3 separate regions of the Homo sapiens genome follow, and all the other regions are linked to region 3. Evidence: fine-mapped QTL for protein levels in blood plasma. A gene starts in region 3. Each other region holds a variant in brackets. All regions are shown on one strand. Distances are between the middles of the regions.

Region 1 (2,742 bases), 20 kb after region 3:
GCCTCTCTCTCTCTCTCTCTCTCTCTCTCTCTCTCTGTGTGTGTGTGTGTGTGTGTGAAGTTTTTTACAGGTGAATAAACAAAGTTTGAAAGATGTTTCTGTGTGTTATCTGTCTTTGAGAGAGTGCCAGGAAAATCCCTGGACCCTTAAAGAAGAGGAGAATCTTCTTGAATAAATGGAGGTGCATTCAGCATTCATTCAAGAACATTTATTGAGTGCTTACGGAGGCCAGCTACTAAAGGCCAGCCACTGAAGTAGATACTGAGAAAATACAAAGCTCTGGAAGCACGCCTTTGCCCTTGAGGAGTTCTTTCTAGTCAGTGAGGCGGACAAAGAAATAGTTACCGTATGATAAGTTCCGTGATAAAGCTATGTGTTGGTTATTGTAGCACAAAGGAAGATGTTGCATTCAAGGCCACCTTTAGTGAACGCTAATATCGTGTGCTGGGACAAATGCCACATATTGGGGGGGAGTCCTCAGGACCCTCACAGATAGATGGTGGTAATAATAGTATTCACTATGTGCCAGGCACTGCTCTAAGCCCTATAGGTGGACTGTTTAGTTCTCTACAATTCTATGAATTAGGTAGTACTATTAGCTCTGTTCTATAGACCAGGGAACTCAAGCA[T/C]AGAATGCACAACAGTCACACAGCAGGTAAAGGGTAGAGCAGGTGGGGAGCCAGTCAAGGAAGGGAAACTGTCCTAGGCAGAGGAATAGCCTTTGTAAAGGCACAGAAGAGTGAGAATGCTTGACAATCAGTGGGACTGGAATATAGGGCTGTGTAGGACTCGGGGAGGGAACAGAGAATAATAGAAAGGTTGGACAGGACTGGATATTGACATCCTGGAATCTCAGGTTCAAGGGAGGACTCTATCATGTGTGCAGAACTCCACCCCGGGGGACTCTATTCAACTGAAGCCTGAAAGGATGGGGGGCTCTTTCTCCACCCCTGAACTGTGCTGTCCTCCACCCTCAGAGACAAAAGAACCCCAGCCAGCCTCCTCGCGCTGAGGTCTCCCCCTCTGATCCCTCCAGGATTTAGGAAGAGATACCAGGTCATAGAAAAGGAGATGAAAGGCAGGGAGAAGACAGGTCTGAGCCCTGGGTCCCAACACCGAAAACACCCCTAGGGCCCTGGGCAGAGTGACCTCACTGTTAGTCCCTGCCCAGGCTTGAAGTAAGAGGTGAGCAAGATCACGTGGGGGTGCTGTCCCGGCCTGCAAGTCCCAGTCCTGTCACACACTAGTCAGTTGGGGTCGGGGGAAGGCCTTCCTGTGCCTCCTTTTACCTTGCCAGCCTCTAAACTAGGAGGCTTCTTCCTACATAAACACGCCCACAGTGTTTAGCTAACTTTCTAGGCAGAAAGTTTCCTACTGGGGCACAAGTCTACGGGCTCTCGGTGGAGGCTGAGGTACTCACGGGTGGAGACCACTGCAGCCGCCTTTGTAGATTCAGACTCCCCGAACCTTTAACCCTTGCTCTGGTCTACTGTCCCTCTGTCTCAAGCAGTCCTCCCTCCTTCTGCGCTGCGGCGCCTTTAAACCTTCTTGGCCCTTGCCCCGCCCCGGGTCCGCCCCGTCTGAGGCGGGACCCTCCTGAAAATCCCCGGCTGGGCAGGGCGCACCACTTGCAGCTGCAGCCCTTGCCTTGAGTCAGTGCGCCGCTCTCCAGCCCGCTTGAACGGTGAGCAGGTCGGGGGTACGGGGGTCGGGGACATGTGCGTGCTGTGTAGAAAGCAAGAAGCCAGCGCTTTGAACTTGCTCCAGCGAGCTCGGGGATCAAGGGCTGGTACCAGGCAAGGGTCCGGTGACTACTTTACCCCGCCCCGTGCTGTCAGGTCCTGTCCCCAAGCCCTGACCCGACATTGTTGGACGATGAGGTCAGGCGAGGTTAGCCCATGCATAGACAGGGCGTCCGTCTGGAGCAGGGACTCAGGGACTGAGCCCCACCCGCGGGCTCCATCGCTGAGTCCTCACTGGGGCGAGGGGAAAAAAGGGCGTCGGACTTTAGCTGGCTGGCCCCGAGTGACCCCGGGTCGTGGCGCCGGCCCTGGGCCAGCTCGTGCTCCTGGGCTTTCCCGCGCGACCCTTCACTTCCTGGTTCCAGGAGCACGTGTGAGCACTGCGTGCCCTCTGAGTCCCCGAGGCCGCCCTTTTCATTCCTGTTCCTGCTAGCTTGCTATTCTGGGGACTTGAGGTCACGGGCTGGGGCTAGGGGGCTCTGCATGGGTCGCACGGTGACCTTCTGTGAAGCTCCAGTCATCTCTATGACGGTCCCCTGACCTCGGGGGTCTGGGTGCTGCAGCCCTGACTGCGCCCCGGGGTGCCCTGTGTGAGGTTGTGGGGGTGGTGGTGGCTGCTTTTACCCTGCCCGAGCGCCGCTGCCCCCACCGGGTGCCCCCTGCTGCTGGGAAAGCCGGTGGTGGCCGCGGGCGGACGGGCGGGCTGCCCAGACCACTGCGTCACCCCAGCGGCGGGAGGGCGGTGGGTGACTCATCTGTTGTAACGGCCCAGGGTGTGGTCGTGGGGGTGGGGGGCGGCGGCTGGGAGGCCGGACCTGCAGGACCGGAGGTGGACTGCCGCCTCCCCCCGCGCCCTGTGCCTCCTGGGGCTACCTGAAGCCGGTGTCCTGGGAGATCTGTGAGCAGTTGGTATCTGTGGGGCAGAGAGAAACGGGGTGAGAGTGGGGATGGAGTGTGGGATTCGATGTAGAAGACCTGCGGCTGGGACGGGGCTCCCCCA
Region 2 (2,749 bases), 13 kb after region 3:
TTTCTTTCGTGTGATGACTGGGAAATTGTGTGTCCCGGGGGAACACACACTTCTTACCAGGTGCTGTGTGGGGTAGTGGGTTGAGGGCAGGGGCAAGGAGGCATCCATCCTTAAAGTGGGCACCATCTGGGCAGAGGACAGCAACACTGTCTGGAAGGCCAGGGATGGAGCTCGTGCCTTCCTCTTAGGGTGGTTGAGGATAGACCAGCAACAGATTCTGGGACTTTGGTGATGGGCCTCAAAGAGGACACAGTCATTCCCTTGCAGAAACCAGGGTCAAGAGGCAGGAAGTAGTATAGTACGTTTATGGAATCATGGATCGTCCAATTGGGTGGGAGCCGGAGTGCCTGCAGGGACATGAATGGTGCAGAGAAAGCTGGAAAGACAGGTTAGCATCAAAAGGAAGAACTGGATGCCAAGTTACTATTGCCTCATTCCAAGGCAATTGGGATCTTTTGTCTGCAGAGACTATAAATTTTTGAGGCCTAGTATTGCATCTTTTCATCATAGTGTACCTGGGGCTTCTACAACAATAGTACTCAGTATATCTTTGTTGAATATTTAAGAAAAAAGTCTACAGGCAGTTGGAGCCACTGGAATTTGTTGAGCATTGGTGTGATAGGATCAGAGCTGTGATCAGGGGTTGAGCTTGCCCAGTGGAATGTAGCGGGAGATACTGGACATAGGAAGAGGGGTTCTGAAGCTGCTGAAATGGCCCAGGTGAGAGTTATGGAGTCTGATTTACAGAGGACATGAAGATGAATGGGCTCATGCTCTGACAAAAGGGACTTCCCAGGATGACTGGCTTAGTGAGTATTTCACCAGGGGGAGTGAGGGAACGTGAGGAGGCAGACTTCAGCAAGAAGGATGGCGGGCCCTTTAATAGAGAAATAGGAGCTGGTTTTGGGTGGAAGACTCTGAACTTAGTTGTGGAGTGCTGGGAAGAGAGCCAGGTGAAGTCCCAGCAGGCAGGAAGCCCCACGCGGCCCAACTACAGGGGTGGCCATTCACAGTGTATTTTCTGTGAGTGGCACCCCCTGGAGTTGTGCAGTCACAGCCTCACACTATTGGGAGGGGTCCCTCTGCAGGAAGGAAAGGAAGCACTGGAAATCAGAGAGGGGTCAGGCCTAGACATGGAGCTGCTGGAGTCTTCTGCACAGCTGTGGGTTTCTCATCCTGCCCCCTCTCTTGTACTGCCATCCCGGGCTTGTCTCTGCTGAGCTCCTCTCTCTAGCTGTCATCTTCTCTTCCTTCCAGTTCC[C/T]TGGCTGGTCCCAGGGCACAGAAGGCTCACTGATCATCGCCCTGGGGAACGAGGATGCCCTGGGAGAATACTCCTGCACCCCCTACAACAGTCTTGGTACCGCCGGGCCCTCTCCTGTGACCCGCGTGCTGCTCAAGGTTAGGCCGGGGGTGGGCGGGGGCCTGTGGTGACAGTGGGTCAGATGGCTGGAGATGGTGCTAAGGCCAGGCTGATGGGGGTGGGGTGGGGCAGACACATGGGGAGGGGTTTCCAAGTTTGTTTCCCATGGTGGCCACGGCAGCAGCTGCCTGATGCCATCCCAGAGGTTTCTGCAGAGGTGGTGCTCGGGAGGTGGGACATCAGTCACACACATCCAGAAGTAAGATATCCTGTTTGCCCCAACTCTCACTAACCTTGACCGTGCTGCCTCCCTCTCTGGGGCTCTGGGAGGAAGAATGTTCTGCAGAGGTTTGTACATCTCTGAGAGTCCTGCCTAAGCCTGCCAGCCCTTACTACACCACCATTTTCCTCCAGCCCCTACCCACTGGGGAACAGAAACAGAGCCAGAGAGGAATTGAGAGATGGAGAGAGAATGAGGTAGAGACAGGCTTGGTGAGTGTTTAGCTAGGGGGAGTGAGGGAGAGTGAGGTGAGACATGGCATGACAGGGAGCACAGAGAGAGGGAGTAGCCAGCCTTAGATGTAAGAGAGGGCCCCTCCCAATGCCAGATCTGGCTTGCAGGCTCCCCCAGCTTTTATAGAGCGGCCCAAGGAAGAATATTTCCAAGAAGTAGGGCGGGAGCTGCTCATCCCCTGCTCCGCCCAAGGGGACCCTCCTCCTGTTGTCTCTTGGACCAAGGTAAGGCTCCTGAGCCCGCTCTGCCTGTACCCACGCCCACTACACCCCTGCCTCTCGTGCCCCAGCCATTTTGTGGGAGGGAGGGTGTGGGAAGGAGAAGGCTGTCAGAGGCAGGGTGGGGAGGAACTGGAGCTGCCTGGAGAGATGAGGGGCGCCTTTGGTGAGGGGTGGCTGCGTGTGTCCTCAGGGCTCACCAGTGGTTCTGTAGGTGGGCCGGGGGCTGCAAGGCCAGGCCCAGGTGGACAGCAACAGCAGCCTCATCCTGCGACCATTGACCAAGGAGGCCCACGGGCACTGGGAATGCAGTGCCAGCAATGCTGTGGCCCGAGTGGCCACCTCCACGAACGTCTACGTGCTGGGTTAGTGGCTGGAGAGAGGGCCAGGGGCTGGGAGAAACTACTTGGGAATCGTTTTTGGAGGCCCAGAAAGAGGATCATGGGTGTGGGACCCCTGGGATGATGATGGGTGAAGGTCAGTGGCCCTGGGGCCCCTGCTACTCTGTACACTCCCTCAGGCCCTGACCACCATCCCTCCATTCCCCCCTGCCTAGGCACTAGCCCTCATGTTGTCACCAATGTGTCCGTGGTGGCTTTGCCCAAGGGTGCCAATGTCTCCTGGGAGCCTGGCTTTGATGGTGGTTATCTGCAGAGA
Region 3 (2,749 bases):
TGATGCTGCAGCAGTGATTCTGTGAGTCTGATGCCTGGTGCACTCAGTTTGAGTCTTAGTACTTCGGATTGGGATGAGATCAGCACGTTGCTTTCATGGAAGGCTTCCAAGGGAGCCAACTGAATGGGAAGGACCTGGACAGGCAATGTTGCTTAAGCCGACCCAGCATCCCTACAGCATCACCAGGCTGAGGAGGTGGAATCTCTGAGGGGCAAGATATGCAAGATATCTTTGTGTCTGAGGGCGAAGCCTCCAAGGGAGTAGGTTTGATGAAGTTTGGGTTGGGTCTCAATCCAGCTCTGCCATAACCTAGTTGGGAAAGCTTGGGCCAAGTTACTTCATCTCCCTGAGCCTCAGTTTTCTCATTAGTCAAAGGGAGCTCTACTTACTTCGCAGGGTTTCTGTGAAGGTTACACAAGAGTTATAAAGCATCTAGTCCAGGGTCTGGCACCCTGCATGGGTCCAGTAAGTGATCTTGTATTTCATTCCTCCCTTTCAATCTCCCGTGTCAGGATATCTGTCGTTTCTCCCCTCTGGGCCTGTTTCTCTGGGTCGTTGGTGCCAGAGCTGCCTTGGGAGCTGACTTGGCAACCCCACGCTCAGAGCACAGCCTTCCTCAGCTGCACACGGTGGGAGGCGCCTGGGCAAGATTTGGGAGCTCGCCAATGCAGACAGGTATTTCCAGTCCTGCTAGAGAAGCAATGGGTGGAGGTAGAAATGGGGATGGGGGAGGAGATCGGATGAGCCCGGGACCTGGGTGGATCCCCTGGGAGGAGGGCGGGGAGTCATGCTCCCCGCCTGGTTCTCCTACCCCCAGGCTCAGATTTCAACCCTCGCTGCCGCCTCTGTGGCGCGCCCGTTCGGGGAGCGGAGAGGGTCGCCCGTAGGTTCCGAAAGAAGGACGGCGTACCAGTAGCCTGGCAAGGGGCCAGCTCCCGCAGCCCTGGAGCGCGAGCCGGACCCTGCTGCCCCTCTTGCTGGCGGCGGGAAGCGGCCCACCGGCCTTTCCACGCTTGGCTGTGCAGAGGTCCACGAGGGGGCGACCTGAGCCCACGTGCAGCCGAGCTCTTCCCTCCTGAAACTACAACTCCCAGGCCGCTCAGGGGTCCCGCCCGCCTCGCCGTGCCTCTGGCGGCTCCAATTGGCCGCCGCGGGAGGGGGATTGGCGGTCTCCAGGGCGACGGGAGGCGCTCGGGGCATCCGAGGCGGGGAGGCGGGTCCGCCCCCTATTGTGTAGCGGCGAGAGTGGAGCCGAGCGGTGCGGAGCAGGTGAGGGAGGGGGCGTACTGGAGGTATAGAAGTGGTGGTGCTGGTAGTGCGGAGTTATGGGGGACAGGAGAAAGCGGGGAGTTCTAGAGAGAAGTGGAATTCGTTGCAGGAGTAGAACTAGGGGAGTTCTGGGGAGTGAAGTGGAATTCTTGGCGGGTGGGTGGGAGTTCCCGGAGAACTGCAGGAGTTCTGGAGGCAATGTGGGGGAGTTCTTGGTGGGTTCTAAGAGAAAGGAGGAGTTCCAGGGGACCAGAGAATGCGAGGGAGAAAGGAATTGTTGGGGGTGGGGTATCAGAATTGTATTGTGGGCTGATGCAGGAGAATCCCAGGGAGGGGAATTATCGGGAGGAGAGGATGGGGAGAAGTGGCTGGGGGGTGGGGAGACCAGAAGGGAGTTCTTTATAGTGCAGGAGACCTGCTGCAATTGGAGATCAGGTGCGAGAAGCTGGAATTGTGGGGGGATTGTGCGTAGTAGCGATAACTGGGAAGGGAGTAATGGGAGGACGAGGGAGTGGTGTGTGGGGAGACTAGAAGGGTGAGGAAATAGTGGAGGCCGGGGGAGTTGGAAAGATATTAAGAGACTGGGAGGAATTCTAGGGATGCCTAGTTACTCAGAGTCTCGGAAAACAACCAGGAGAGAACTAGGGGGTTCCTATATACTTGGAAAAAGGTTTTTCAGGGAAGTGTGGGAGAGCTGCCTGGAGGCAGTGGGAAACAGGGGGCTTGGTTGCTAGTGAATTGCCAGAAGTTAGACATACAGGATCATTAAGTAGAGGCAAGGATCAGACTCTGTGGAGGATGTTTTATAGTCTGTCCTGAACTTTGCGGCCAAGAGTGGGTTGGAGGACTCAGAGCAGAGTCCACTTGGCAGTGCCAGGCCCTGGCATGGACCCTCTGGCTCTCTGAGACTGCCCTAGGATCTGTGGGGCTGTCAGAAGCTCCTACCCTCCATGCCCCAGGGTTAATTTTGTACACTTCAGGGACTCACAGGCTTTTTTTTGGACCATGCCTCTGGGGTTGGGGAAGAAAGAGCTTGACAAACCCTGGCACCCCGAAGATATTGGAGGGGAGTGAGTGGGAGGGATTTGGGTGAGGTCCTTGGGTGGTGGTGCCTGGCAGGGGGAGGGCTGCTTGGCAGTATCGTGAGGAAGTGGCGCCAGCTGCCAGCCCCGGGACCTGTCCAGACCTGGAGGATGCTGCCTGGATCCCCCATACTGGCAGGTGGGGGAGGCAGCTCCTCCTCTCCCAAGTGCCTGACTCACTCACTGCCAAAGCAGTGTAGGGAGACTGAATGGAGAAAGGCCTCGGGTCCTCAGCTTCCAGAGTTTTTCATAGAGGCTGGGGAAATGGGACAAGGGATTGTATCGGGGTGTCCTGGGGACCACTTTCTGAGGCTTAAGCGCCCTGGATTTGCCCTTGACTGGCTCTCTGCCCCTGAGCAGATATCCTCAGGGCCCTTATTTGTCACAGAGGGGTGAAG

Alleles and levels. Alleles are on the strand shown, and positions count from the first base shown. The strength of an association depends on the size of the effect and on how common the allele is.
As copies of T replace C in region 1, the plasma level of the protein whose gene starts at base 1,229 in region 3 goes down (moderate association).
As copies of T replace C in region 2, the plasma level of the protein whose gene starts at base 1,229 in region 3 goes down (weak association).

Evidence for each region. PIP is the chance, under the fine-mapping model, that this variant and not a neighbour inherited with it causes the effect. The UK Biobank Pharma Proteomics Project read protein levels with antibody pairs (Olink). The fine-mapping took linkage between variants from a reference panel, not from the people measured, so its PIPs are less certain.
Region 1: its variant is fine-mapped to the plasma level of the IGSF9 protein (UK Biobank, PIP above 0.99).
Region 2: its variant is fine-mapped to the plasma level of the IGSF9 protein (UK Biobank, PIP above 0.99). The variant lies in the coding sequence of IGSF9. If it changes the protein, the assay may bind it differently, which can mimic a change of level.

What each region holds. Positions count from the first base shown.
Region 1 is chr1:159,924,392-159,927,133 of GRCh38, reverse strand. TAGLN2 (transgelin 2) reads left to right here and starts at 1,627. Exons shown (of 5, transcript NM_003564.3): 1 at 1,627-1,684. It overlaps IGSF9 (immunoglobulin superfamily member 9), which reads left to right. Exons shown (of 21, transcript NM_001135050.2): 21 at 1-93. It overlaps LOC124904437 (a long non-coding RNA gene), which reads right to left. Exons shown (of 2, transcript XR_007066683.1): 2 at 194-2,655. RefSeq lists enhancers at 1,949-2,525, 1,998-2,742 and a silencer at 2,257-2,666. The variant T/C (reference allele first, on the strand shown) is at 630.
Region 2 is chr1:159,931,161-159,933,909 of GRCh38, reverse strand. IGSF9 (immunoglobulin superfamily member 9) reads left to right here. Exons shown (of 21, transcript NM_001135050.2): 10 at 1,258-1,398; 11 at 1,982-2,098; 12 at 2,307-2,457; 13 at 2,649-2,749. Among named protein-coding and RNA genes, the nearest start is that of TAGLN2, 7.0 kb to the right of the region's middle. The variant C/T (reference allele first, on the strand shown) is at 1,262.
Region 3 is chr1:159,944,093-159,946,841 of GRCh38, reverse strand. IGSF9 (immunoglobulin superfamily member 9) reads left to right here and starts at 1,229. Exons shown (of 21, transcript NM_001135050.2): 1 at 1,229-1,269. LOC124904438 (a long non-coding RNA gene) reads right to left here. Exons shown (of 3, transcript XR_007066684.1): 2 at 390-690. RefSeq lists an enhancer at 606-1,106 and a silencer at 949-1,243.